Linked DNA regions of Homo sapiens. The protein of the gene in region 2 interacts with the protein of the main gene of each other region in a pairwise test. Each region holds a gene or a part of one and is shown on either strand. Other genes may lie near its edges.

Region 1 (7,470 bases), on a different chromosome or scaffold from region 2:
ATATTAACTTTATACCCCAATTAAGTGAAATAATTTCTCTTGAAAAAGCATTCTATTCTTATTAATAGACCTGTATTACAAAAACTTTTACTGTTATTATTTCTGTTTCAAAATTTTTAAAAAATTGTGGAAATTTGATTCTCGTTTTTCATGTGAGTACTTATATAGTATTTTCAATTGTTGCTTCTTGATACAAAGTCTGAAGTATTTGCTTTCTGCTTATGAGGCAGAATTGAGAGGCATATGTAGATTTGAGAACAGGACAGTAACACCTGATGGTAGAGGAGCAAGGCTATTGAATCTATTGTGGAGAGAGACGTGGCAAATTAAAAGTTACTAGTGGAGTGGGGAGAGGTAGCGTGCTTGGAAAAGAATGTTTTTATTTAAGATTAGTGTTTCTATAGGGCAAAGTGATGAGAAGTTAAGGTTTTTTAGGTAAATTTTTTATCAGATATGACGTTCATTCATACAAGTACACAAATATAAATGTACTGGTCAATGATACATATTTTTTTCAAAATGAATAGCGAATACATTTATGTGACCACCACTCAGATTAATAAATAAAACATTACAGACATCCTTTTTTTTTTTTTTTTTTTTTTCTTTTTTTTTGAGACAGAGTCTTGCTCTGTGGCCCAGGCTGGAGTGCAGTGGCGCAATCTCGGCTCACTGCAAGTTCCACCTCCTGGGTTCACGTCATTCTCCTGCCTCAGCCTCCCGAGTAGCTGGGACTACAGGCGCCCACCACCACGCCCGGCTAATTTTTTGTATTTTTAGTAGAGACAGGGTTTCACCGTGTTAGCCAGGATGGTCTCGATCTCCTGACCTCGTGATCCGCCTGCCTCGGCCTCCCAAAGTGCTGGGATTACAGGCGTGAGCCACTGCGCCTGGCGACATCCTTAAACCTTCATCTTGACCCCTGTTAGTCACTACTCACACCCCCTAAAGGTAAGCTGTAGTCTGATGATTCATTTTGCCTGTTTTTGATTTTTATATAGGTGGAGTTAAGCATTTACCACCATGTACTGCTTTGTATGACATCTTTCACTCAGCATTGTTTGTGAGTCATCATGTTTTTAGGATAGCAGTAGTAGTTCATTGATTTTTCAGTGCCGAATGTTAATCTATTATGAGTATGCTGTGGTTTGTTTTCTCATTTTAACATTGATAGACTTGGCTATTACAAATAGTGCTCCTGTGTACATTTTTGGAAGTGCACTTTGACTATATGCACCCATTTGTTTTGGATGCCTCGAAACAATTGCTGGATCAAAAAGTATGTTTGGCTTTGGGAGATAAAAATCTTACAAAGTAGTTGTATTCCTGCCAGAAGAGAATAGGTTCCAGTTAGTCTACATCCACACCAACACTGGTATTGTCAGGATTTTTTAGGTTTTTATTGTAATTTTTAGTATGCATTTCCTTATGATTAATGACGTTGAGAACCTTTTCATGTGTCTGTTGGCCATTTGGTTGTCTTCTTTTGCGAAGTGCCTATCTTTTAGCCATTTCAATTGCAAGGTCTGTCTTGTCTTACTCATTTATAGGAGTTCTGCATGTAATTTGGAAGGTTCGATTTTGCTCTCATGGCTAAATACCCTTTGACCACCTTCATCTTTATTTTTTGTGGGCAGTGAAATATTGTGGCATTTTCTTGGATTTTTCTTTCCTTGCAAAATTAAGTTCAGTACAGAAATCTTTTCTTTTGCTGAAGCATTTCTGTCCGTGAATATTTTGTAGAATCTTTACATATTACTCAGTACACTTCATGTTGTTGTGAGTTTGTGTATATGTATCTATTTGCTCCCTGTACTATAGGTTAAATTATGCTTTTTTGGATCCTTTGCAAAGCAAAAGCCTGATCTGACATGGTTGACTTAAAAACTTGGTGCAGGTTGTTTCAGCAATGTGGATGGAGAAGCATATAGGAGTTTATTACTGATTACCTGGATGTGGAGAAGTGACAGCTATATGTGCTTTACAGGAAAGATGGCGTGGGTTTTATTTATACACAGCCTTGCCTAGAAAGGGTAAGAGATGGTTTGTAGGGACACATAAAAAATAAGGTCATGTAAATCAGAAGTAGGTGGGAATGTCTACAGTAATTCTCTTCATTTTAAAATTTTTAGGTAAGTAAAATACTTTTACGTCTATAGGTTGGTTGCTTGCCATATTGCTTGCCATTATTACAAGAGGGGAATGTTAATGGTTTATCGTATTTTATAAAGTATTTCTTGAAATATATTTCCAGGTAAATTAGTTTTAGTATTAATCAGTTTATTTGGGGAACTTAAATATATTCATTAGAAAGTTATCTTCTTTTGCAGATATATAATGAAAAGGAATTATTACAAGGTAAATTGGACCTTCTTAGTGATACCAACATGGTAGACTTTGCTATGGATGTATACAAAAACCTTTATTCTGATGATATTCCTCATGGTAAGTTTTGTCATTAGAACTGAAACTTGTCTTGTGACTTGAGGATGTGTGTATTAAAGTTTTATGATTTATAAGACAGCTTTAGCCAAAAGGCTTAAATATGATTTGAATGTTAATGTTCTTTGGGTGAGAGGTTATATAAAGGTTTCATATCTTCCGAAATATATTGTTTTCTCCCTGTGAAAGATGTGGAACTACTTTAAAATATGGTCATCAGATGCCTTCATTTCATAGTATGTATCATCAAAGTTGTGCTTATGATTCACATTCCTTAGAATTATCTGAGAATGTTGCAGTTCTTGGGTTGCTAACTTTTTCAGTTAGTGCATTGTGTGCCTTAGAGTTTTGTGTTTTTTTTTTTAATTTTGAGGCATCTAGTGTAGACATTGTTCTCCAAATATGGTCCCCAGGACCAGCATCATCAGTTCACCTGGGAGAGCTTGTTAGAAATGCAGGTTTTTGGCCACACACCAGACCTACTTAATCAAAACTGTTAAGTGGTCCTCTTAAGTTTGGGAAATAATTCTGTGTCATTTCTTCAATGCACATTACATTTTTAAAGGTTCCAAGAATTTTGGCAGTAGAGAAATACAGTATACTGTGATTAAATTGGCATTTCTCAAAATTTGATCATAGATCTTCTGTGTTTCAGAAAGACTGCTCTAGAATATACTTTCTAATATATAATACAGACATTATTACATTAAACATAATCCACATGTTTGACTTGTAGTTCCCTGCAATAACAGTATCTCTTTTTTAGTTTGTCATGGATAAACAAAAAGGAAACTATTTCTTAGTTTCTTTCTTTTTTTTTTTGAGATGGAGTCTCGCTGTGTTGCCCGGGCTGGAGTGCAGTGGTGCGATCTCGGCTCACTGTAAGCTCCGCCTCCCGGGTTCACGCCATTCTCCTGCCTCAGCCTCCCGAGTAGCTGGGACTACAGGTGCCCACCACCATGCCCAGCTAATTTTTGTATTTTTAGTAGAGACGGGGTTTCACCATATTGGCCAGGCTGGTCTTGAACTCCTGACCTCGTGATCAGCCCGCCTTGGCCTCCCAAGTTGCTGGGGTTACAGGCGTGCGCCCTTGCCCCTGGCCTATTTCTTAGTTTCTTAATGAAACATTAAGGTGTTACCAGAGTTGGTTATGTGCAAGTTTTCTCCACCTTTTCATAGTATAGTAAAAGGAACGATAGAATTTGGTTTGAGAGATTATAGAGCTGGATTTGTGGTTAAAAGAGATTATTTAATGGATTTAAATTCCATTCAACCTAGTTGATAACCTGTAATAGTAATATGTAAATCCCTCTGAGTTTTTCTTCAAAAACTCTGGGATAATATTCACCTAAGAAAATTAAATGAGAACAAATATAAAAACACTTGGAAAGAAGTTTCTGCAATGGAGAATTAAATGATAGATAATTGGGTCCTACCCTTTTTTTCTTTCACATCCCTCTGTCACCCCAAGGCTGTATATTCTCTAGTTTCCCTCAAGAGTAGGAAGAGGATTCCCTTTTCCTTTTTGTGCCTTTGTATTAGTAGAAAAAAGAAATTAGGGATCGGGGACATTTCTGACTGAGTAGCCCATGGCATATGAATATATTGGGGGTAAATAAATATATGTATAGTTTAAATACACTGAAAAATTTCCAGACATTCTCATGATGAGTAGCACAATTTAACATTCCTTAACATTGTAGTGCTCTTCTGCATTTTTAATTAGCTTTGAGAGAGAAAAGAACCACAGTGGTTGCACAACTGAAACAGCTTCAGGCAGAAACAGAACCAATTGTGAAGATGTTTGAAGATCCAGAAACTACAAGGCAAATGCAGTCAACCAGGTAAACTCGTCTTAATTTTGAATTCTAAAAATTCTCCTTTCTGGATTAATACAAATGTTAATTCAAACTTTATCCAGTATCCCATAGTAAAAGTTCATGGTTTAAATGAGTGCTTTATTCATTTTTAATTTTTGTTTATCCTTATTTTGTAGGGGCCAGTATAATTAATAAATGTTAATATTAACACTAAGTTTTTTTCCTAAAAAAAACTTCTTTAGTACTTATCTATACTGATTATACTACAGAAATTCCATCTCCTGTTTCCCCCTTCCTGGGGACATTTGGCAATGTCTGGAAATACTTTTTGGTTGTCATAACTGGAGGGGTGCTATAGGGACCTAGTGAGTAGAGGCCAGTTATGCTGTTAAACATCCTACAGTGCATAGGACAAGCACTGCTGCCGCTACTCCCCAACAAAGAATTATCCGACTGAAAATGTCCATTAAGAAACCCTGTTCCACTGTGTGGTGGCTCACACCTGTAATCTCAGCACTTGGGGAGGTGGAGGCAAGTGAATCCGTTGAGCCTAGGAGTTTGAGACCAGCCTGGGCAACATGGCGAAACCCTCTATCTTACCAAAAAATTAAAACCAATAAAAAGTTAGCCAGGTGTGGTGGTGTGCGCTTGTAGTCTCAGCTTACTTGCTACTTGGGAGGCTGAGGTCAGAGGATGGCTTGAGCCCGGGAGGCGGAGGTTGCAATGAGTCAGTGTCATAATACCACTGCATTCCAAAGTAGGTGACATAATGAGACACCATCTCAGGAAAAAATAAAAAAGAAACCCTGTGCTTGGGCAATACCTAGAACCTTAGAACACATGGGTATCTCGTTATAAGAGAAACCTGAGCTCACTTTATCCCTGGCTACATTCTTTCATACCCTTCCAAGCTCCATGCCCAAGGAGGGTAGTTTTGAGCTGATAAGATTATTTTATTCCTAACTTCCCTTTACCTACAAATAGACGTTACTGTTTCGTTTCCAAAGAAAACATATTGCCTTAGTCTGACGTAGTACATGTCACGGGTGGAAGTCTTTTGGGTTACTAGAAACATTTAAAAATAAAATCTCTTACTAAAATTGAATATTGTCATTTGAGATAAATCCTAGCTACCAGTAAATTCACTTGAGGAATTGCTGGATATTTTGCCGTGCTATACCTTTGATTTCTATGTATTTAAACCAAATTTTTAGAGATTGGCTCTTAAGTTTTCCTTTGTGATTTGTGAAGGTGTTACCAGATATTTTTAGAAAAGCAACAAATATACAATTACTGTGCCATACTATAGCGTACTATACTATACTATACCATACCATACTGTGACATATACTACATACAAATGCAGTTAGCTCTCTGTTCTGCATCTGTGGATTCAGCCAACTGCAGATTGAAAATATTCAGGGAAAGAAACTAAAAAATAACAATACTACAATAAAAAATACAAATAAAACTACAGTGTAACAACTAACAACTATATGATATTTACATTGCATTAAGTGTAAGTAATCTAGAGATGATTTAAAGTGGATGGGAGGATGTGTATAATTTACATGCAAATACTGTGCTATTTTACATAAGGGACTTTAGCACCTGCAGATTTTGGTATTTGAGGGGGCTCGTGAGTAGGGGGTAGGCAAGGTCTTGGAACTAATGCTCTGGGGATACCAAGGGATGACTATATGCGGGAAAACACACAGAGATATATACACACATCATGCGCATAGACAGAGCTATATATTATACTAAACTACTTTTATGCTTTTAGAAGAAGTAATTTTAGATCTTCAGGTCACATGTAGGTGATTACAAAGGGACAGCGGAAATAATCCAGATGTTAGACTACAACAGAAAATTTAGGATGCTGTAGTTTAGTCACTCAAAGACTGGGAAGTAATGGGATCAGAGCATGAATAAGATGAATGTACATGTGTTCACCAGTTAGAAAAAGAGGATCCTTGTAGCTTAATAGGTACTGAGTTTGAGATAAATGAAAGGATCATGTGTTAAAAACTTGTAATCTTATACTTACAGACTACCTATTTTCAATGTAAAAACCTTTTTCTGACAATTCACCCTTTTTAAATTTCATTGAATATATAGTATCGTACTTACACTTTCCCGGAAATAATCAGCCAGAGGACAGTGATTATATACGTGAGTGGTATGAGTAGTGCAATACAAAGTTATTCAGTGTGATCCACTGCAAATGTTCAGTTTTTGTTGAAGTTCTTCTATGTTGGAATTTCATGTACATTTCATAATCAGTATTGTAATACACCTATATTAATTTTTATGGGGACATATCTCTGCTCCATTAAATCTTCAAGCAAAATTGTGTTCCCAAAGACACATTATAGCATATTTCTTCTCATGAGAAGGATAAGAAAATGTTTTTGTTTTGGAAAATGCAGTCAGGTGCAGTAGCTCATGCCTGTAATCCCAGCACTTTGGGAGGCCAAGGTGGGTGGATCACTTGAGGTCAGGAGTATGAGACCAGCCCGGCCAGCGTGGTGAAACCTCATCTCTACTAAAAATACAAAAATTAGCTGGGCATGGTGGTGCACGCTTGTAATCCCAGCTACTTGGGAGGCTGAGGCAGGAGGATTGCATGAACCCGGGAGGCGGAGGTGGCAGTGAGCCGAGATTACACCAGTGAACTCCATCCGGAGTGACAGAGTGAGACTCCGTCTCAAAAAACAGTAACAACAAAAATGCTCATAAGGTGGGCAACTATACACATATATCCCCTGTCCCTTGATGTCTTTCTTTATTATTAGTTTGTCTTTTACTAGTCTGTCAACATCTCAAGATAATGCAAAGCTAATTTAAGAAAAATTAAATATGGCACTTGGTTATACCTAAGGATTGTGTAGGGTATGTAGCATAGCTGTCATGTATATCGGACATGATTTTTAAATTTTTATTTATTATTTTTTTTTGAGACAGAGTCTCACTCTGTCGCCCAGGCTGGAGTGCAGTGGTGCCATCTCTGTTCACTGCAACCTCCACCTCCCAGGTTCAAGCGATTCTCCTGCCTCAGCCTCCCAAGTAGCTGGGATTACAGGCACCCGCCACCATGCCTGGCTAATTTTTGTATTTTTAGTAGAGACTGGGTCTCACCATGTTTGCCAGGCTGGTCTTGAACTCCTGACCTCAGGAGATCCACCTGCCTCGGCCTCCCAAAGTG
Region 2 (7,470 bases):
GGACTCCCAGTGCCTGGCAGCTAGTAAGTCAAGTGAGAACTGAGAACCAACCGTTGTTTTTAGCAACACAGAGACCACTGCTGACGCTGACAGAAGCAATTGTAATGGACACGTAGGGAGTGCAGTCCTGTTTGGAGCACATTCGCCTGAGAACGGAGAAGAGTAGCTGGAGGGGGAAATGGCAAAGACCAGGCTGGCATAACCAGTAGCGGTGTGCTCTTCCATAGGGCAGGGACTGCTGGATGGATACTGAAGCGCATTCTTCCCGAAAACTAGATGTCATTTTCCAGTGTGCGTGTGGTCAGGGGTGGCCACGAAACCAGCCTCTTTCCATGGCACTGTCACTTGCTTCCCAGCCTGGCCCTCAAAGCCTCTCGGTAGCTCCTCCAAGCACCTGCCCTTCTCAGTGGCTAGAAGCACAGTGGCTAGAAGCAGCTACAGATGAGCCTCAGGGAATAGAAGCAGCTCAAGATGGCAGGAGCTTGGATCCCTGAGCAACCACATCAAGGGCAGCGCCCTGCTGACCTTATCATCTTCCCAGGACTGTTATGAGAGCAAGAGAAACGTCTATTGTATTAAGCCACCACAATTTTGGTGTGTTTGTTACTGTGGCCTAGTCAGCCATACACCACATACCACACACAGCACAGAGGCATTGAGGGGAGTAAGAAGGCTTCCTCAAGGAGAATGTAGAAATATATACATCTCAAACAAGCCATGCTCACCATGTGGGGTGTCTGCCTACCTGGTAAGCCAGCCCCTCTCTTCTGAGACCCAATCCCAGTTGACTGGACCAGAGGTGGGCATCCGAGTCAGCCTGGGCCAACCAGGTTGCTTCTCCTAGGAATTTATAATTGAGACTCAGCTCTTCCAGTTGGCTTGGAATGAGATTCTATGGACTTGGAGCAGAGAATCTGACTGAACAGTCTGGGGAGAAACAGAAAGGGAAGGAGAGGAGAAAATAGAGTAAAGATATAGGGAGAAGCTGGGTGATGGGCAGGAAAAGCTGATGTCTGGCTTGTTGGCAGCTTTTCAGTTCTTGGGGCTAGTTTTTCAAGGGACCGGGGATGAAGTTCTGCCCTTGGATTCCCTAAGAGATCTCATTACCTTGCCAGCACTTTATTTATTTATTTATTTATTTTTTAACTTTGCTGAACCCATTCTGAAGTGTTTTTTTTCCCTTTTTTAAAAAAAATATCAGCCAGGCACGGTGGCTCACGCCTGTAACCCCAGCACTTTGGGAGGCCAAGGTGGGCAGATCACGAGGTCAGGAGATTGACACCATCCTGGCTAACATGGTGAAACCCCATCTCTACTAAAAATACAAAATATTAGCCGGGCGTGGTGGTGGGAGCCTGTGGTCCCAGCTACTCAGGAGGCTGAGGCAGGAGAATGGCGTAAACCCAGGGGGCGGAGCTTGCAGTGAGCGAGATCGCACCACTGCACTCCAGCCTGAGTGACAGAGCGAGACTCCGTCTAAAAAAAAATAAAAAAATAAAAAATATCAGGTGAAGGCACTCACCAACATTATGAAATGTTTTTGTCTACGGAGGCAGGTGGATCATTTGAGGTCAGGAGTTCAAGACCAGCCTGGCCAACATGGTGAAACCCCGTCTCTATTAAACATACAAAAAACAAATTAGCTGGGTGTGGTGGCATGCATCTGTAGTCCCAGATACTCAGGAGGCTGAGGCAGGAAAACTGCTTAAACCCGGGAGGCGAAGGTTGCAGTGAGCCGAGATTGCGCCACTGCACTCCAGCCTGCATGACAGAGAGAGACTCCATGTCAAAAAAAAAAAAAACCCCAAAAAACAGCAATTTAACTTTTAGGACTTTGTCCTAAGTAAACAGTAAACAGCTGGTCACGTGGATAAAGAGGTTTTTGTGAAAAGCTTCACGGTAGAGTTGTGCATAACAGTCAAAAGGGAAATCAACCTAAATGCCCAACAAGGTTGGGCCAGTTCCTTACTCACTCCACAAACACCGAGCACTGTGCTAGGTGCTGCGGATACACCAGCAAATAAAAAGCCTCTGTTCTCACGGAACTTACAGCCTTAGATGGACAATCCGTGCATAAACACATGACTATGTAACTTCCATAGGATACTGAGAAGAGGGAGGGGAACTCCACAGTGAGCACAAAGGCCTGAAGAGGGAGCAAATTTGGGTTTAAGGTCAGAAAGAAAGCACATGGCTGTAGAAGGAGAGGAAAGATGAGAGGTGAAGGGAGAGGTGGCACTGGGGCTGGAGCAGGAAAAGAGCAAGTTCAGTAAGGCAAAGGATGCAGGACAGTTTGGGGTCCTAGAGTTCAGGAGGGGCAATACGGATGGACTGAAAAGACGTACTGAATGCCAGCTGCAAACAGCTGGATGAGAGCATTTACAGCCTGCCCCTGCCTGCCTCCACTTCCTGAGCCCACTATCCCACACCTCCACCTCCACCAACGGCCTCTGCCCTTCCCCGGCTGCCCTGATTCCTCTGTCATCTTCTCACAGTCCCCAGTGCTTTCCTTTCCTTGTGCTCAGCCGAGTTTTAAATTATGCAGATGCATGTGTGCATTAGTTTCTCTTCCCCTTCCACACAAGTGCATCTGTGAGGGCAAGAATGACAATGGGCTTACTTTCCACTGTTCCCCTTGTGCTTGGCACACAGAAAGTACTCAAGAAATACTTGCTGAATGAAGAATCAAATGGCAGTACCTTTCCAGATTCTGCTCCATCCATTTCACTTCCTGAAGGAACAGGAAGCTCGGAAGCAGGAGCTCCGTGTCTGGGGAACTCTGTTTGAGAGAGGATGATCCCAGCTGTGGCATGCTGGGACTCCCTGGAAGGGCTCGCTGCAGGCCTGCGCCCCACTTGCTTTCTGTTTTGTAGGACTCACCTGCAAAAAGGACTGCTTCTCTCCACAAGCTTTGCATGTCCACTTGACACTCTTTTTTACCTGCAATGAAATTTCAGAAATACAACTCAGATAATTATTTAAAACAAAATGGAATTGGGCTGGACTCGGTGGCTCATGCCTGTAATCCCCCTTTGGGAGGCCGAGGCGGGCAGATCACAAGGTCAGGAGTTCGAGACCAGCCTGACCAATATGGTGAAACCCAGTCTCTACTAAAAATACAAAAATTAGCCAGGCATGGTGGCGGGCACCTGTAATCCCAGCTACTCAGGAGGCTGAGACAGGAGAATCGCTTAAACCTGGGAGGTGGAGGTTGCAGTGAGCCAAGATTGCACCACTGCACTCCAGCCTACACGACAGGGTGAGACTCCATCTCAAAAAAACAAACAAACAAACAAAAAACAAATGGAATTGGATCTGAAATTTTTTTTTTTTAAATCCCAAGTAGCTGGGATTACAGGTGTGTACCACCACGCCCAGCTAATTTTTGTATTTTAGTAGAGATGGGGTTTCACCATGTTGACCAGGCTGTTCTCAAACTCCTGACCTCAAGTGATCCACCTGCCTTGGCCTCCCACAGTGCTGGGATTACAGGTGTGAGCCACCATGCCTGGCCTGAAATAATTTTTTTTTTTTTTTTTTTGAGACAGAGTCTGGCTCTGCTGCCCAGGCTGGAGTGCAGCGGCGCAATCTCGGCTCACTGCAAGCTCCCCCTCCCGGGTTCACGCCATTCTCCTGTGTCAGCCTCCCGAGTAGCTGGGACTACAGGTGCCCGCCACCACGCCTGGCTAATTTTTTGTATTTTTAGTAGAGACGGGGTTTCACCGTGTTGGCCAGGATGGTCTCGATCTCCTGACCTGGTGATCCACCCGCCTCGGCCTCCCAAAGTGCTGGGATTACAGGCGTGAGCCACCAGGGCTGGATCTGGCCTGAAATAATTTTAAAAACTGATGGAAGGAGTCCAGAAACAAACCAAAGCATGTGTAAACATTTAGCGTATCATAATCATAAAGGTGGTACTTTAAAAGTGAGAAAAGAACAGACTATTTAACAAGTCCGGGTTGGTGCTGGGAAAACTGGCTATCTGTATGAAACACAATCAAATTGGGCTGGGCACAGTGGCTTGAGCCTGTAGTCTCAGCGACGAGGGAGGCCAAGACTACTCGAGCCCAGGAGTTTGAGGCCAGCCCGGGTAGCATGGCAAGAGGCTGTCTCACAAAACCAAATCCAAACAAAACAAAACCACTCTGAAAGACCCAAATTGAAGCTGTAAAAAAAAATTCCATAATATTCCTGTCTCGCAAAACCAAATCCAAACAAAACAAAAACACTCCGTAAGACTCAAATTGAAGCTGTAAAAAAAATTCCATAATATTTAAATTCTTGTTAAACTTGGGTCTAAAAAAAATTCCGTAACATTTATTTTCAATTCTTGTTAAACCTGACTAGATGTGTTCTCTCTTAACATATAAAATGCCTAAAACCCACTCTAATGCTGGAGAATCTTTACCAGCATTCCACATGGAAGTCAAGAACAAGCCAGGGTTGCCCGCTATTATTTACCATTTTTTTCTGGATGTACTAGCCAATGGAATTAGAAGAAAGTTGTAAGATGTATAAAAATTATAAAGGAGCGGAAAACCCTATCATTATTTATAGACATAATTATAATACCTGAAATAACTCCTGACCTCAAATGATCTGCAGACCTCGGCCTCCCAAAGAAAAGCCAATTTTTTAATTTTAATTTTAATTTTAATTTTTTTGAGACGGAGTTTCGCTCTTATTGCCCAGGCTGGAGTGCAATGGTGAGATCTCGGCTTAGTGCAACCTCCACCTCCCAGGTTCAAGAGATTCTCCTGCCTCAGTCTCCCAAGTAGCTGGGATTACAGGCACGTGCCACCACGCCCGGCTAACTTTGTGGTTTTAGCAGAGACAGGGTTTCATCATGTTGGTCAGGCTGGTCTCGAACTCCTGACCTCAAGTGACCCACCCAAAGTGCTGGGATTAAAGGCATGAACCACCAGCCCGGCTGCTACCTGACATAATTTTTTATCCGAAAACCAACATAATGAAATGAGAAGCCACTAAAACCAGATAGTCTAATACAGTGGTTAGGTACAAAATTAAGATACCTTCAAAAATTAATATAGCTTTTATATGAGCAGACATCTAATTAGAACACATAATTGATAAAGAGTCCATTTATAACAGCAACAAATAAAATGTTACCAAGGGATACCAAGGTTACTTGAAGAAACGTAATGGATCATGTTTAACACCACAAAGATGTCTAGGTTGATCCATTAACATTAATACGATTAATATGATCCTAATACAAAATCATGAGGTTTTCGGGGGAAGTATCCAAAAGGATTCTAAGGAGGACAATGAGCACCTACCAAAAATTGAACTGGGTAATGACTTAGCAATTTTACTTCTCAGCTTCTACCTTAAAACACCAATAAAACTGTGGATTTTCTATGAGTATATAAACAAGTAAGAAAAGTTGTTTTTTTTTTTTTTTTTTTGAGACAGAGTCTGGCTCTGTTGCCCAGGCTGGAGCACTGTGGCGTGATCTCGGCTCACTGCAACCTCTGCCTCCTGGATTCAAGTGATTCTCCTGCCTCAGCCTCCCAAGTAGCTGCGATTACAGGTGCCCGCCACCACGACCTGTATTTTTTGTATTTTTAGTAGAGACGGGGTTTCACAACATTGCCCAGGCTGGTCTCGAACTCCTGACCTCATGATCTGCCCCCCTCGGCCTCCCAAAGTGCTGGGATTACAGGTGTGAGCCACCGCACCCGGCCAAGAAAAGCCTTTTTAAAAGTTTAGGACTCACAGAACCTGGTAAAGGAATTAATTGTGGGAACTGCTGAGATAGTATGGTTCTGCCACTCCCTAGATGGAGAAACCACTTGATTCCCGTGTATTTCGGAATTCTCATGTCTCTAAGATGGGAATGATGCCTAAGTCAAAGGTTGTTGAAGTTAAACGTGTTAAAGTAGTACACAGCCGACTTGCAATTAAAATTAAAGTAGTACATAGCCGACTTGCCGTCCTCTTTGGTTTCAAGTAATTTTTCTTTGTTTTTGAGACAGGGTCTGGCTGTCGCCCAGGCTGGAGTGCAGTGGTGTGAACACGGCTCACTGCAACCTCTACCTCCTGGACTGAAGCGATTCTCCTGCCTCAGCGACCCTGAGTAGCTAGGACTACAGATGCGCGCCACTACATCTAGCTATTTTATTTTGAATTTTAGTAGAGACAAGGTCTCGCTACGTTGCCCAGGCTGCTCTGGAACTTCTGAGCTCAAGTGATCTGCCCTAGTGGGCTTCCCAAAGTGCTGAGATTATGGGCGTGAGCCACCGGGGCCAAGCAACTCACATTTCATAAGGTTGAAAATGACCACGAGGGTCAGGGGCGCTGGCTCACACCCGTAGTCCCGGCACTTTGGGAGCTAAGGCGGGAAGAACACTTGAGCCCAGGAGTTCCAGACCAGCCTGGGCAACACGGCCGAAACCTCATTCCTACAAAAAATATAAAAATTAGCTGGGGATGGTGGCCCACACCTGTAGTACCAGCTACGTGGGAGGCTGAGGTGGATCAGCTGAGCCCGGGAGATGCAGGTTGCAGCGAGCTGTGATTGTTACCACTGCACTCCAATCTGGGCGACAAAGCGAGACCTTGTCTCAAAATAAATAAGTAAATAAATAAATAAATAACACTGGTGAACATGGAAGAGTGAAACAGGAAAACAAACAAGGAAATAGAGGCCGGGCGCAGTGGCTCACACCCGTAACACCAGCACTGTAATCCCAGCACTTTCGGAGGCCGAGGCGGGCAGATCACGAGGTCAAGAGATGGAGACCTTCCTGGTCAACATGGTGAAACCCCGTCTCTACTAAAAATACAAAAATTAACTGGGCTTGGTGGCGCGCGCCTGTAATCCAAGCTATTCGGGAGGCTGAAGCAGGAGAATCGCTTGAACCCAGGAGGCGGAGGTTGCAGTGAGCCGAGATCACGCTACTGCACTCCAGCCTGGCGACAGAGTGAGACGTGAGACTCTGTCTCAAAAACAAAAAAAGGAAATAAAAATAAACGGAAAATTTGTTTTTAAAAAACAGCATGAAACATTAGACGTGGAATAATTTAAAAATGCAAATGATCTCCCTTTATTTGCAACTCTTAGGACCCAGCTCCCGAAAGAAAATAAGTAAAAAGTTTCTGAGCCCTTAAAATGGCCCTTACAAACGCTTAGCATTAAATGCAAGCTTACAGACACATACTCAGCATCTTGCTGACTTTTTAACATACCTCTTAAACAAGTCTGATCCACGCCGGGCACAATGGCTCTCGCCTGTAATCCCAGCACTTTGGGAGGCCGAGGCAGGCGGGTCACCTGAGGTCAGGAGTTCGAGACCGGCCTGACCAACATGGAGAAACCCTGTCTCTATTAAAAACACAAAATTAGCTGGGCATGGTGGCGCATGCCTGTAATCCAGCTACTCGGGAGGCTGAGGCAGGAGAATTGCTTGAACCTGGGAGGCGGAGGTTGCGGTGAGCCGAGATCGC
Region 3 (7,470 bases), on a different chromosome or scaffold from region 2:
AGAATTATCAGCCAAGAATTTTGTATTCAGTGAAACTAAGCTTCATAAATGAAGGAAAGATACAGTCTTTTTCAGAAAAACAAATTCTGAGAGAATTTGCCACTACCAAGCTAGCACTACAAGAACTGCTAAAAAGAGCTCTGAATCTTGAAACAAATCAAAACACATCAAAACAGAACCTCTTTAAAGCATAAATCTCACAGGACCTATAAAACAAAAATACAATTAAAAACAAAAAACAAAAAATCCAGGTATACAGACAACAAATACCACGATGAACAGAATGGTATCTCACATCTTAATACTAATGTTGAATGTAAATAGCCTAAATGCTCCAATTAAAAGATACAGAATCGCAGAATGGATAAGAATTCACCAACCATCTGCTGCCTTCAAGAGACTCACCTAATACATAAGGACTCATGTAAATTTAAGGTAAAGGGGTGGATAAAGAAACTCCATGCAAATGGACACCAAAAGTGAGCAGGAGTGGCTATTCTTGTATCAGACAAAACAAACTTTAAAGCAACAGCAATTAAAAAAGACAAAGAGGGACATTATATAATGATAAAAGACCTGTCCAACAGGAAAATGTCATAATCCTAAATATATATGCACCTAACACTGGAGCACCCAATTTATAAAACAATTACTAATAGACCTAAGAAATGAGATAGACAGCAACATAATAATAGGGGGGGACTTCAATACTCCACTGATAGCACTAGCCAGGCCAAGACAGAAAGTCAACAAAGAAACAATGGATTTAAACTATACCCTGGAACAAATGGACTTAATATATTTACAAAACATTCTACCCAACAACCGCAGAATATACATTCTATTCAACAGCGCATAGAACTTTCTCCAAGACAGACCATATGATAGGCCACAAAATTAGCCTCAATAAATTTAAGAAAATTGAAATTATATCAAGCACTCTCTCAGACCATAGTGGAATAAAATTGGACGTCAACTCCAAAAGGAACCTTCAAAACCATGCAAATACATGGAAATTAAATAACCTGCTCCTAAGTGAGCTTTGGGTCAAAAATAAAATCAAGATGGAAATTAAACAATCATTCGAACTGAATGACAATAATGACACAACCTATCAAAGCCTCTGGGATACAGCAAAGGCAGTGCTAAGAGAAAAGTTCAAACCCCAAAACGCCTACATCAAAAAGTCTGAAAGAGCACTAACAGACAATCTAAGGCCACACCTCAAGGAACTAGAAAAACAAGAACAAACCAAACCCAAACCCAGCAGAAGAAAGAAAATAACCAAGATCAAAGCAGAAACAAATGAAATTGAAATAAACAAACAAAAAAAACAAAAGATAAATGAAACAAAAAGCTGGTTCTTTGAAAAGCTACATAAAATTGATAGACCATTAGCAAGATTAACCAAGAAAAGAAGAGAGAAAATCCAATAAGCTCAATTAGAAACAAAATGGAAGATATTACAACTGACACCACAGAAATACAAAAGGTCATTCAAGGCTACTATGAACACCTTTACGCACATAAACTAGAAAACTAGAGTAGATAGATAAATTCCTGAAAGATAAAACCCTGCTAGCTTAATTCAGGTAGAATTAGATACCCTGAACAGACCAACAACAAGCAGCAAGACTGAAATAATTAAAAAACTACCAGCAGGAAAAAGTCCAGGACCAGACAGATTCACAGAAGAATTCTACCAGATATTCAAAGAAAAACTGGTACTATTGGCACTATTCTACAAGATAGAGAAAGAGGGAATCCTCCATAAATCATTCTATGAAGGCAGTATCACCCTAATACCAAAACCAGGAAAGGACATAACCAAAAAATAAAACTATAGACTGATATCCCTGATGAACATAGATGCTAAAATCCTTAACAAAATACTAGCTAACCGAATTCAACAACATATGAAAAAGATAATCCACCACGATTAAGTGGTTTTCATACCAGGGATGCAGGGATGATTTAACATACGCAAGTCAATAAATGTGATACACCACATAAACAGAATTAAAAACAAAAATCACACGATCATCTCAATAGATGCAGAAAAAGCAATCAACAAAATCTAGTACCCCTTTCTGATTAAAATTCTCAGCAAAATTGATACAAGGGACATACCTCAATGTAATAAAAGCCATCTATGACAGACCCACAGCCAACATAATGCTGAATGGGGAAAAGTTGAAAGCATTCCCTCTGAGAACTGGGACAACATAAGGATGCCCACTCTCTCCACTCCTCTTCAGCACAGTACTAGAAGAAGTCCTAGGCAGAGCAATCAGACAACAGAAAGAAATAAAGGTCATCCAAATAGGTAAAGAAGTCAAACTGTCACTGTTCACTGATGATATGATTGTTTACCTGGAAAATCCTAAAGACTCCTCCAGAAAGCTCCTAGAACTGATAAAAGAATTCAGCGAAGTTTCTGGATACAAAATTAATATACACATATCAGTAGCTCTTCTTTACACCAACAGCGACCAAGCTGAGAATCAAATCAAGAACTCAACCCCTTTTACAATAGCTGAAAAACAAACAAACAAACAAAAACTTAGAAATATACATAACCAAGGAGGTGAAAGACCTCTACAAGGAAAACTACAAAACACTGCTGAAAGAAATAACAGATGACACAAATAATGAAACAAATAATGGAAACACATTCCATGCTGATAGGGTGGGAATCAACATTGTGAAAATGACCATACTGCCAAAAGCAATCTAAAAATTCAATGCAATTCCCATCAAAATACCACTATCATTCTTCACAGAATTAGAAAAAACAATCCTAAACTTCATATAGAACCTAAAAAGAGCCCGCATAGCCAAAGCAAGAATAAGCAAAAAGAATAAACCTGGAGGCATCACACTACCTGATTTCAAACTATACTATAAGACCATAGTTACCAAAACAGCATGGTACTGGTATAAAAATAGGCACATAGACCAATGGAATAGAACAGAGAGCCCAGAAATAAAGCCAAATACTTACAGCCAACTGATCTTTGACAAAGCAAACAAAAACATAAAGTGAGGAAAGGACACCCTATTCAACAAATTGTGCTGGGATAATTGGCAAGCCACAAGTAGGAGAATAAAACTGGATCCTCATCTCTCACCTTATATAAAAATCAACTCAAGATGGATCAAGGACTTAAATCTAAGACCTGAAACTATAAAAATTCTAGAAAATAACATTGGAAAACCTCTTCTAGACATTGGCTTAGGCAAGGGTTTCATGACCAAGAACCCAAAAGCAAATGCAATAAAAACAAAGATATATAGCTGGGACTTAATTAACCTAAAGAGCTTTTTCACGGCAAAAGGAACAGTCAACAGAGTAAACAGACAACCCACAGAGTGGGAAAAAATCTTCATAATCTATACATCTGACAAAAGATTAATATCCAGAATTTACAATGAACTCAAACAAATTAGCAAGGAAAAACAAAGAAGCCCATCAAAAAGTGGGCTAAGGACATGAATAGACAATTCTCAAAAGAAGATATACAAATGGCCAACAAACATATGAAAAAATGTTCAACATCACTAATGATCAGGGAAATGTAAATCAAAACCACAATGTGATATCATCTTAGTCCTGCAAGAATGGCCATAATCAAAACATCATAAAATATTAGATGTTGGTGTGGATGCAATGAACTGGGAACTGCTGGTGGGAATGTAAACTAGTACAACCACTATGGAAGATTCCTTAAAGAACTAAAAGTGTGAAGATTCCTCAAAGAACTAAAAGTAGAACCACCATTTGATCCAGCAATCCCACTACTGGGTATCTACCCATTGGAAAAGAACTCATCATACAAAAAAGATACTTGTACATGCATGTTTATAGCAGCACAATTTGCAACTGCAAAAATATGGAACCAACCCAAATACCCATCAATCAATAAGTGGACAAAGAAAATGTGATATATATGATGGAATACTATTTAGCCATAAAAAGGAATGAATTAATAGCATTCACAGTGACTTGGATGAGACTGGAGACTATTATTCTAAGTGAAGTAACTCAGGAATAGAAAACCAAACATTGTATGTTCTCACTCATAAGTGGTAGCTAAGGTATGAGGATGCAAAGGCATAAGAATGACACAATGAACTTTGGGGACTCAGGGGGAAAGGGTGGGAAGGGGGTGAGGGATAAAAGACTACAAATTGGGGGCACTGTATACTGCCTGGGTGATGGGTGCACCAAAATCTCACAAATCACCACTATAGAACTTACTCATGTAACCAAACACGACCTGTTCCCCAGTAACCTATGGAAATAAAAAAAATTGTTTTTAAAGTAGTGGGATAACATCAGCTTTCCCAGGTAGAATAAGAACTTGATTGTTACGTAGAAAGAAAAGAAAAATTATATTTAAATACTGTGTTTAAAAATATACTTTTCATGGAATTTTATAGCAGGCTGGGCTCCTGATTATCATGTATTCTAACCTTCTGAGTTTATAGACGAGGAAATTAGAGATTGTGACTACAAGGTCACAATGTTAGCTGGTAGGAGACCCAGAATTAGAATCCAGGTCTTCTAACTCCCAGGAAGTGCTCAGAATGCCACAATAAACATAAAAATATTTGTATTTACTTCAAGATGAAGGGGGGAAATGCTGCATAAATATTTTCATATCACACACAATTATAAAAAGCCAAGTCACATTTTTAATTTTACATTATTATAAGCATATATGGTACGTGTTTGACTTGCCAATTTTCAGCAGTGACACAGACAAGAAATAAATTTTGTTAATTATTCATGTCATTTTAGAACTGATATTTATTGAGCACTAAATATATAATAAACTATATAAGTCCTTACCTTCATGAAGTATACACTCAGGTGGGACAGATAAACACTAAACAAATCAGCAACACAAATTATAATATAGTGCTGCAAAGGGGAAAAAAAAAAAAGAGAGGGAAGTGATATAGAAAAATGAGGAGGAACTGCCATAGCAGAGTGGCCAGGAAAAGCCTCACTGAAAGGAAAGATGGAGTCAGCCACTTAAGGATGGTGGGGAAGCTATTTCAGATAGGAGAAATGCCATGTACAAAAAGGCCCTGAATTGGAATTTTCAAATGCTGCCATTTCAAGGAAATCAGTAAAAATAAATCCAATGTATTGAAACATGATAGGTGAGAAAAAGGACCCAAGATGAGGCTGGGGAGAGAGCAGGGAGGGCCAGCTCCAGTAGGGCTGTGAGGAACCTGTAGAGTTGGATCTTTATAGATGATAGGGAAGCCATGGAAGTGTTTCAGTCAGTATGTGACATAATCTGATTTTCAAAAAATAAGCCTGGCTGCTCTGTGGAAAATAAATTTATGGTAATAGTGAGGATGAAAATAAGTAAATGAATTAGTTACATATTTTAGAAGCAGAAACAATAGAACTTGCTAATAGATTAGATGTGGATTGTGAGGGGAAAGAAGAATGAAAGATGACTTTCATGTCACAGTGAGGTGAATGGTGGTAATGTTTACTGTATTGGTTAAGAAAGCCTGATGGCATTTTCCCAGAAAAATGACATAATCAGAGCTGAACTCTAGAGAATAAACAAGGCAGCATACCTGTTATAAGCATAAGGACTAGGAATGAGACTAAAACAACAGTTAGGTAGTCATTTGGCTTGTCTGAACTATGATAGTGGCAGAGGAAATGAAAGTGAGAGATATTTGACTTGGCAACTCATTAAGTGTGGAGGATAAAGGAGAGAAAAAGCCAAAGATGGCTCAGGTTTCAAGCTTGGATTACCTAGTGGAACCACACAGGGAAAGCAGATCTATGGGAAAAGGTGAGGGATAGAGATAAGTTAGAGACATACAGAACTTGAGGTACCAACAGTTCATCCAGGTGAAGATATCCCATGGGCCAGGGGGATACAGATCTGGAGTCTCAATGATGTCAGAGTTGGAACTAAATAGTGACATTCTCTACGGTGAGGTGACGGTTGAAATCACGAAAGTGGGTGAGATCTCAAGAAAATTATATAAAGAATGAGATAGAGCCTTGAAAATACTTGTAAGTTAAGAATTGAAAAGAGGAAGGGAGGCTAAAGAATAAGCAACCACATAGAAAGAAGGAGGAAAATGAGAGTCATGGAGGCAAAAGAAGAGCACAGTTTCAAGAAGGGAGGAAGGGTCAACAGTGTCAGATGGCATAAACAAGCCAAAGACAATGCTGGCAAAGTAAACCTCTCTAGATCTGGTAAAAGGACAGCACTGGCTACCTAGGAGAAAGTATTCTGGGGCTGTGGGTAGGGAGAAGTCAGATTGTAAGTGATTTGACAGTCAAGTGAGAAACAAAGTTATCTTGCTTAAAGGCATCACAAGGTATTATAGAAAGAGGACAGGATGATATGACTCTAGCTAGAGAAGCAGTCACTAGAGTGTCTGAAATAGAAATAATATGAAACTTGAAGATGAAAAAGATGAAAGAAGAACATCAGAAATAAAGAGCTGGAAGTCAGTCTGGGAAACACAATATAGTAGGTGATGCTGGAATTATACAGGAGCAAGGGGAAAAGATGAGGGCACTTGGAATAGATGTCCTGGTCTTTATTACCTAAGTAAGAAATGAAGTTATATTCTGTCTATGAGGAACAGTCCTAAGAATTTCCAAAATATAGACAAATATGTTGGCTATTATGTGGACCTCTGGGTATTAGAGGTCCTTCATTTAAAATTAGAACCTTCATTTAATTCAGAGAAACCATAATTCCCTTATTATAAACAAACAAACTTAGTTTCAAAGTCATGCATTTAGCTTCTCTCTACCCCATTATCTATGCTAAGGCTCATTTATCTAGAAATTGTGATGATCCAAGTAAAATGAATTGGAAAATAAAAATAATATTTTTATGTGCACTATCCTTAAAGAAATGAATTATGAATATTAAATAAGTACAAATTAAGTAACAACAATTAGTGTAAAATAACATAGAAAACAAAAAATAGGAAGCCTATTTCCTACTCAAGCGCAATTTCTCCTCTGAATTTTACTAATACTTTCTTACGACATATATCACTTTATCACCTTCTACTTTATAACAGTTACTTACTATTCTTTTCAGTAAAAATTAAACATACCAGGATTCATATCTTGGTAATTATTTAGTGCCTATCCCACTTCTCTCTTGTATTTTCAGCCCTCTCCCTTCTCTGCTGATTTTGCAATGTCTGTCAAAGCCACAAATAAACAAAAGAAACAAGCAAAAGGAAAAGATACATCCAATTATATAAATCATACTGTTTAGTGGATGTTTAGGTTCGGCCTATGAATGCATATGTGAATGTGTCCCTATAAATGAGTTAAGTGGGGAAGAGGAAATGATACAGATTCTAGTTGAGAGACTGAAATTGTTTAAAAATAAGTGACTATCATGTAAATGGCATAGCTCCTCCCCAGCCTCTAGCTTACAACAGGTACTCAATAAA
Region 4 (7,470 bases), on a different chromosome or scaffold from region 2:
AGGGCAGAGTGGGAGCCTAGTGGCTTGGCACCCCAGTCCCATCCTACTCCTATACTTCTCCCTTTTCCAGATAAAGGCTCTAGACCAGTGTCTGCCAATAGGACTTTCTACAGTCACAAAAATGTTCTATATGGCTAGTACAACCGAAGAAGTACATTTTATTTAATCTTAATTAATATAACTTAAAAATTGCCACCTACATGTGGCTAATGGCTAGCATACTGAACTACGCAGCTCTAGACAGTCACTTTGTCTGGGTGTCCCTAGATAAGCAGGTCACATCCACAGGGAAAGCAGGGGTACAAGACTCTCCTCTGCCTGCCCACCCCTCCCTACCACTGTGGCAGTACCATTACCTTAAGCTGGCCCACAACCATGCTGATGATGCAGCTATCTGGAGTGGGCTGATGGTCCTGCGCGGTGATGCTGTGCTGAATTTTCTGGAACGGAAGGCTCTACAAGAGAGAGAGTGGGAGGTGGGAGAACCAAGGCCAGAAGGGGTGGGAAAGGAGCCACCTGCACCCTGGCTTTCTTCCCTACTTACAGACAACTTCTCCACAATGGCAGCTTTCCCCTGGAACTGTTGTCCTTCCCACGTAAGGCATGACGCGTCAATCTGAAAAAGGCACAGGAAACCCCAGGGTTGGGGCCTCAGAGTACAAGTATCTCTAAGGCCCTGGAAAGACTCTGAAAAGGGCCTTGCTTGGAGAAGTGTGGCCACACTTCAGTTTCCCTGTCTAAAGAAGGAGACTGAGTATAGCCCCCAAACATTACACTATCAACATCTTCTACCCCATTGACCCTGGGCCCAGGCTTTGAAAGACTATTTAATAAAATATACTTCCCATTTGTATTTAAGAAGTCATATGGTCTCTGATATGCATAGGCCCAGGAGGGCTATATTGGCCTGAGCTCAGCCATCCTGCTGTGTGGTCAGTCAGTGTCAGTCCCAAAAGGTCATCAGAAATGTGGCCAGGCACGGTGGCTCACGCCTGTAATCCCAGAACTTTGGGAAGCCAAGGCGGGAAGATCACGAGGTCAGGACATCGAGACCAGCCTGACCAACATGGTGAAACCCCAACTCTACTAAAAATGCAAAAATTATCCAGGCATGGTGGCGCACGCCTGTAATCCCAGCTACTTAGGAGGCTGAGGCAGGAGAATTGCTTGAACCCAGGAGGCGGCGGTTTGTAGCGAGCCGAAATCGCACCACTGCACTCCAGCCTGGGTGACAGAGCAAGACTCCATCTCAAAAAAAAAGTCATCAGAAATAACTTGGAAAAATTCCACATTCATCACCCTCCAGGGCCGAGGCTAAGTTCCACTGTGGACTTTCTAGCTAGCCTTCTGGATACCCATGGGGTCAGGGAGAGATAGAGGCTGACAGGGCCTTCCAAGGCCTAGTCTGGGACCCTCCCTACCACCAAGAAGCAAAATCTCAAATGTAACCCACTTAGCTTAGTTCCACCTCAAATCTTCCCTTCCACAGCCTTCAAGGGCAGAACTCAAAAGGGCTTCTGCTGCTTACTAGCTGTGACATTAAGTAAGTTATTTCTCTGAGTCTTAGTTTCCTAACCTTCAAAGGGGTAATGTGCTGAGTATTATGAAATAATAAATATAAATTGTTCTTTTAGGACCTTGCTAACTCTCTTCTCTGGCTCAGGCCTGCTTTAAGAGATAATGAGGCCAGGTGCAGTGGCTCACACCTGTAATCCCAGCACTTTGGGAGGCCAAGGTGGGTAGATCACTTGAAGTCAGGTGTTCCAGACCAGCCTGGCCAACATGGTGAAACCCCGTCTCTCCTAAAAATACAAAAATTAGCTGGGCATGGTGGTGCGTGCCTGTAACCCCAGCTACTTGGGAGGCTGAGGCATGAGAATTGCTTGAACCTGGGAGGCAGAGGATGCAGTGAGCCAAAATCGCATGAATGCACTCCAGTCTAGGTGACAGAGTGAGACTCCATCTCAAAAAAAAAAAAAGGGAGAGTGATAATGAGGCACAAGTGCCAGGATCTCAGGTCAGATCACTTCAAGGTTTCAAAAACTCTATGCTGGGCATGGTAACTCACACCTGTAATCCCAGCACTTTGGGAAGCCAAGGCAGGCAGATCACCTGAGGTCAGGAGTTGGAGACTAGCCTAGCCAACATGGTGAAATGTCACCTCCACTAAAAATACAAAAATTAGGTGTAGCCGGGCGCGGTGGCTTATGCCTGTAATCCCAGCACTTTGGGAAGCTGAGGCAGGCAAATCACCTGAGGTCAGGAGTTCAAGAACAGCCTGGCCAACATGGTGAAATCCCATCTCTACTAAAAAATACAAAAATTAGCCGGGCATGGCAACACGTGCCTGTAGTCCCAGATACTTGGGAGGCTGAGATGGGAGAATAGCTTGAACCCAGGAGATGGACATTGCAGTGAGCCAAGATTGCACCACTGCACTCCAGCCTGGGCGACAGAGTGAGACTGCATCTCAAGAAAAAAAAAAAATTAGGCTTGGTGGTGCATGCCTGTAGCCTCAGCTACTCCTGAGGCTAGGCACAAGAATCGCTTGAACCCAGGAGGCAGAAGTTGCAGTGAGCTGAGATCACCCCACTGCACACCAGCTTTGTTGACAGAGTGAGACTCTGTCTCAAAAAAAAAAAAAAAAAACTCTACTATGATAATGACAATCAAATATCTGTGCTGGAATTGGTCTTCCACTAATAAAATTTCATTATTTTTTCCAAAATTTCTGAATGGACACTGACTTTCTGGAGACAGACACAGAAGACTGTGGAGAGTCAGCCCAATCAGGCTCTGAGACTGTGCCTGGATTACTCCTAACACCCCCATCCTGGGCTCACCTGCCTGATCAATCACATTTTTGTGACTGACTCTCAGGCAGAGTCAAGTACAATTAGTTCTTGGTGTATATGAACATCGTTAAAAGAGCAGCAAATGCCGGGCGCAGTGGCTCACGCCTGTAATCCCAGCACGTTGGAAGGCCAAGGTGGGAGGATCACGAGGTCAGGAGTTCGAGACCAGCCTGGCCAACATGGTGAAACCCCATCTCTACTAAAAATACAAAAAATTAACTGGCCATGGGGGCAGGCGCCTGTAATCCCAGCTACTCGGGAGGCTGAGGCAGGAGAATCACTTGAACCCAGGAGGCGGAGCTTGCAGTGAGCTGAGATCGAGCCATTGCACTCCAGCCTGGCGAAAGAGCAAGACTCCATCTCAAAAAAAAAAAAAAAAAAGAGCAGCCAGCAATGCCTGCATAGAAGGGTTTGTGAAATGACCTATCAGCCTCCCTGGGCTAACCTCATTTGTTTTCCATGAGCATTCAGGAGCCTTGGATCCAAAAGGAAGCTGGACCCCAGGCCTCCAAGAGAGCTCAGCTTTGCACTGAGGATGCTCATGGCTGCTGCCTCCAGAGGGCACCATGAGCCCTAACCTCTGCCTGTTGCTGCCCAATCCAAAACCATGTGCCATGACAAATGCTGGCCACATGGAATGGCAAGCCCAGAACAGCAGGATTCTCACTCTTGTGGAAGTTGACAAAAGGAAAAGTATAGACCAGGTAATTACTTGGGCCAAGCGTCAGACCCCTGTCCCGTGGACAAAAGTTCAGATACAGAGGTGTAGCCAGTCCAGATAGGGCTGCCAGAACTTGTGAACTGGACACACTGGCCCAACATCCAAATTGATCCCCTAGGGTCCATTCTGGCCCTAGAGCTGGAAACTTACGTAAATTGCGCCTAGTTGGGTTCTATCATTATCAAATAACTGGTAGTAATGTTGAATGAAGCTGGATCCAATCTGCTCCCAAATTGGCTTGTCTCCCATTCTGGAGCGTCACCCGGCCTCACGGAGACCTGCAAGACCAATGAGACCAGGAGGGAAGCATTGGTACCATGAGAGTAGGTGACCAGCCACTGACCCCCACCCCTCACTGGCCTTCCTGGAGTCCTTTGCTGAGATCTGTTCTCTCAGAGAACACGGACAGGCCCTGGGGAACTGGCAGGAGACCCCTCCCAAGCCAGACCAGTGCTAGGAGCCCAGAGGTAGATCAGACCCAGCCTCTCCTTTGAGTTCTTGGTTGATGAGACACATAGATGATAGGGTCGTGGAGCACACAGGAGGGGTGCTAAGGGTAGATCTACAACAAAGAAAGGTCAGAGCAGGCCCTTGAAAGCCCAGTAAGGGGAGGGGCCTTATGGGAGGAGTTAAGCACTCCTCCAGTATCTTTCCATGTAATCCTCTCAACAACCTGCAAGGACAGAGTTATTGCTATTCTTCCCACTTTACAGCCAAGAACAACTGATACCTGTGTGTGTGTACTATTTTGTACTACAGCCCTCAGGCCCCCAACACTGTCCCAGGGCTACGCTGACAGATGGAAGACCCAGTGAGGATGTGGGGAGATTCTCAAGGCCCCTCTTCTTTTTTTTTTTTTTTTTTTTTTTTGAGACAGAGTTTCACTCTTGTTGCCCAGGCTGGAGTGCAATGGCGTGATCTTGGCTCACTGCAACCTCCGCTCCCTGGGCTCAAGTGATTCTCTTGCCTCAGCCTCCAGAGTAGCTGGGATTACAGGCGCCTGCCAACACACCCAGCTAATTTGTATTTTTAGTAGAAATGGGATTTCACCATGTTGGCCAGGCTGGTCTCGAACTCCAGACTGCAAGTGATCCACCCGCCTTGGCCTCCCAAAGTTCTGGGGTTACAGGCGTGAGCCACTGTACCCAGCCAAGGGCCCTCCTCTGCCAAAAACAGCAAGTGATCCCTTAGTCTCATGGGGGCAGTTTACTTCCCCGAGGCCAGGTGATTACCTGACCTGGCCCTTTCTAGGATATTTCTTCATTGATGGGAGTGACTCCTACCCACTTCAGAGCTGGGGACATGAGTTCAAGGATCAGAGGGAAAGCTGAGGGTTGTGGGAAGAGGGGATGGAGGCTGTGAAGGGAAACGTGTCATCCCTTCATATCCCCTCATCCCAGCATTGCTTTTACCCTAAGGAGCTGTCTCTCTCGGGTCTCTGAGAGGAGGCCCCCTCCCAACTAGAGACCATGGCTGTAAGGATACTGGATGGAAAACCCAAGCCCCAGATGGGAGAGCCGCTTGGGCTTTGCTAGGCTGCTTCCAAGTAGGGAAGCCCACATCTTGCTGCAGATCCCCTGACTGCAGACCCACATGTTTTTCTGTGGATGGCCCCAACTGTAGAGGAGCCCACTCCCTCTGTCCTGATAATAGGACTCTGAACCAAAGCAGTGAGGAGGTGGGTTCCACCCCAGCAGACAAGCATTCGCAGTGGTGGGATCTGATGCAAGTCACTGCCCTTCTTAGGGCCTCAGCCTCCTCCACTATAAGATGGGGATGGCAACCTGACAGTGCCGGTGGTTGTGAAGCTTCTCTAAAGGAACATGATAAAGCCCTCAGCTCAACATGGTAAGTGCTAGCTCACTCCAGTCCGTGTGACCTCGCCCAAAGCCAGAGGAGCCAGCGGGGAGGAATCGTGTAGGGAAAGAGTGAGAACGCAGCCAATCCTCCGCTCTGTGACCAACACTCAAGCCAATGAGGGAGCAGGAAGCTAAGCCAGCTTTATTTTAGGTCCCCTAGGAGGTAGTGGCACTAAAAATAGAAGCTCAGTGCTGGGATGACTAAGAAATGTCCAGGAAAATCTAAAGCAAGCAGGGGAGAAAGCTTGGATCCAGTCACGCCTGCCACACAGGAACACAAGGTGTGTCCTAGTTCATACTCTGCCAAGAAAGAAATCAACAAGTGGGGAAAGCACAGGACCATCATCTAGTCTTCACTGTGGTCTTGGTCACATTTCCAAGAGGTCAGACACTGGCTGTACTCACACACAAACTTAGAGGACCTAAGGCAGAGCACAGCTCCCACCTCTGGCATTTCTGCCCCGTCCACCTGGTACTTGCTATGCTTAGTCACTCAATGTGCCCTGACCCTGCTGCAGCTTCCAAGGTGCCATACCCACTGCCTAAGAGCTCTGAGGGTAGGGGAAAAGCTGGAGGAATGGATAAGGGCCACATCTCCTTCTACCCTTGGCTCAGAGCAAAGTTGGGCAGTCCTCAGAAAGGGTATGCCAACCAGAAGAAACAGCACCAGCAAATGTCCCGGGGCATGAAAAGGGTCTCGCTCTGTCCCCCAGGTCAGGGTACAGTGATGCCATCTCATCTCCCTGTAGCCTTGACCTCCAGGACTCAAGCAATCCTCCCACTTCAACCTCCCAAGGAGCTGAGACTCCAGGCAAGCACCACCACGTCTGGCTGCTTTTTGTGTTTTCTGTAGAGACCAGGCTTCACCATATTGCTCAGGCTGGTCTCAAACTCCTGAGCTCAAGTGATCCACCCAGCTTGGCCTCCCAAAGTGCTGGGATTACAGGCGTGCACCACCATAACTGGCCTGTGATAACTTTCTGATACAAAAACTCCTTGACTGAAGTGGTGGTGGAAGGAAATGGGGTGGAGGGATAAAGGAAGAGAAAGACCCTTTGGCCTGGTAGGGCAGAGAAGAGTGGGGAAGAGTAAGCTCTCTGAGGAATAGGACACATCAGGGGCTCCCAGAAAATGACAAGGAACCTTCAAAACTATGTGGGATTGAGGCCTGCTTCACTGTCTTGTGTTTATTTCCAAGTAGTGATCACAACAGCCACATAGTCAGAATCCACTGTCATCCAGTGATGTCGCTGGGTCTTGCCCTAAGCTCACCTGGTACATCAGTGCTGACACTGGGTCCTCTGGTCAAGGCCCGTCTCTTTTTTCTGCTAACTCTGCATCCCTGAGCTCTAAACCACAAAGCTGACCATGCTCCTCCCCTACAAACACCCTTGCTTTTGGCTTAAAGGCCAAACTCCCTAAGCTCCACAGGTGGCCATCCACCCTCATCCCCATCTCCCTAAGCCATTCCCTCCTACCTCGATCCAGCTACATACAGACACAACAGAACCTACCGAGAGCCTGCTCACCATGTTTTGTACACAGGAAAGTCCCCTCCTGCGATCCCCACCCTTCCCACGGGAGGCAACACTCTTGAGTCCAAAAAAAGAAGCAAGAGTGCAGAGCCCCCATCCTATCCCCATGCAACATGAGGGAGGGGTCCAGGCCAGGCTGGAAGATGTTCCCCAGAATAGCCAGCAAGCTCTGATCTTGTTTCTAACACATTTACTGTGCAAGTAACAGGCTGGAAACAAAAAAGCCCGGGCTCAGAGGCAGCCTCACATTAGACTGGGGACTGACCATCATGACAGCTTCTCCTACAGCTCTTGTGAGAGGGCCGCTGACCACACCATCTCCTGCTTCACCCCAACAGTCCGCAGGCTGAGGCCAGGCTCCTTGAGGAGCAGAAAAGACTCTGATGACCTCTCACCCACTGAACACCAGCCTTCACTGACCCTTAGGTCTCTGTGAGTGCAAAGACCCTCCAAGAATGTCTCAGCAACTGTGGCCCTCTCCCAACACATTTGCACAGAGG

What was found.
Region 1: the proteins of MRNIP (region 2) and EIF3E interact in binary tests that used the Homo sapiens proteins (3 or more experiments, as listed by UniProt).
Region 3: the proteins of MRNIP (region 2) and EFHC1 interact in binary tests that used the Homo sapiens proteins (3 or more experiments, as listed by UniProt).
Region 4: the proteins of MRNIP (region 2) and NUTF2 interact in binary tests that used the Homo sapiens proteins (3 or more experiments, as listed by UniProt).

Annotation. Positions count from the first base shown.
Region 1 is NC_000008.11:108,236,774-108,244,243, reverse strand, and holds part of EIF3E (eukaryotic translation initiation factor 3 subunit E), read left to right. Parts: intron 1-2,330; coding exon 2,331-2,445; intron 2,446-4,168; coding exon 4,169-4,286; intron 4,287-7,470. UniProt on the Homo sapiens protein: Component of the eukaryotic translation initiation factor 3 (eIF-3) complex, which is required for several steps in the initiation of protein synthesis.
Region 2 is NC_000005.10:179,850,498-179,857,967, forward strand, and holds part of MRNIP (MRN complex-interacting protein), read right to left. Parts: intron 2,941-7,470; coding exon 2,881-2,940; intron 1-2,880. UniProt on the Homo sapiens protein: Plays a role in the cellular response to DNA damage and the maintenance of genome stability through its association with the MRN damage-sensing complex.
Region 3 is NC_000006.12:52,425,035-52,432,504, reverse strand, and holds part of EFHC1 (EF-hand domain-containing protein 1), read right to left. Parts: intron 1-7,470. UniProt on the Homo sapiens protein: Microtubule inner protein (MIP) part of the dynein-decorated doublet microtubules (DMTs) in cilia axoneme, which is required for motile cilia beating.
Region 4 is NC_000016.10:67,861,486-67,868,955, reverse strand, and holds part of NUTF2 (nuclear transport factor 2), read right to left. Parts: intron 3,855-7,470; 5' UTR 3,826-3,854; coding exon 3,727-3,825; intron 617-3,726; coding exon 545-616; intron 456-544; coding exon 357-455; intron 1-356. UniProt on the Homo sapiens protein: Mediates the import of GDP-bound RAN from the cytoplasm into the nucleus which is essential for the function of RAN in cargo receptor-mediated nucleocytoplasmic transport.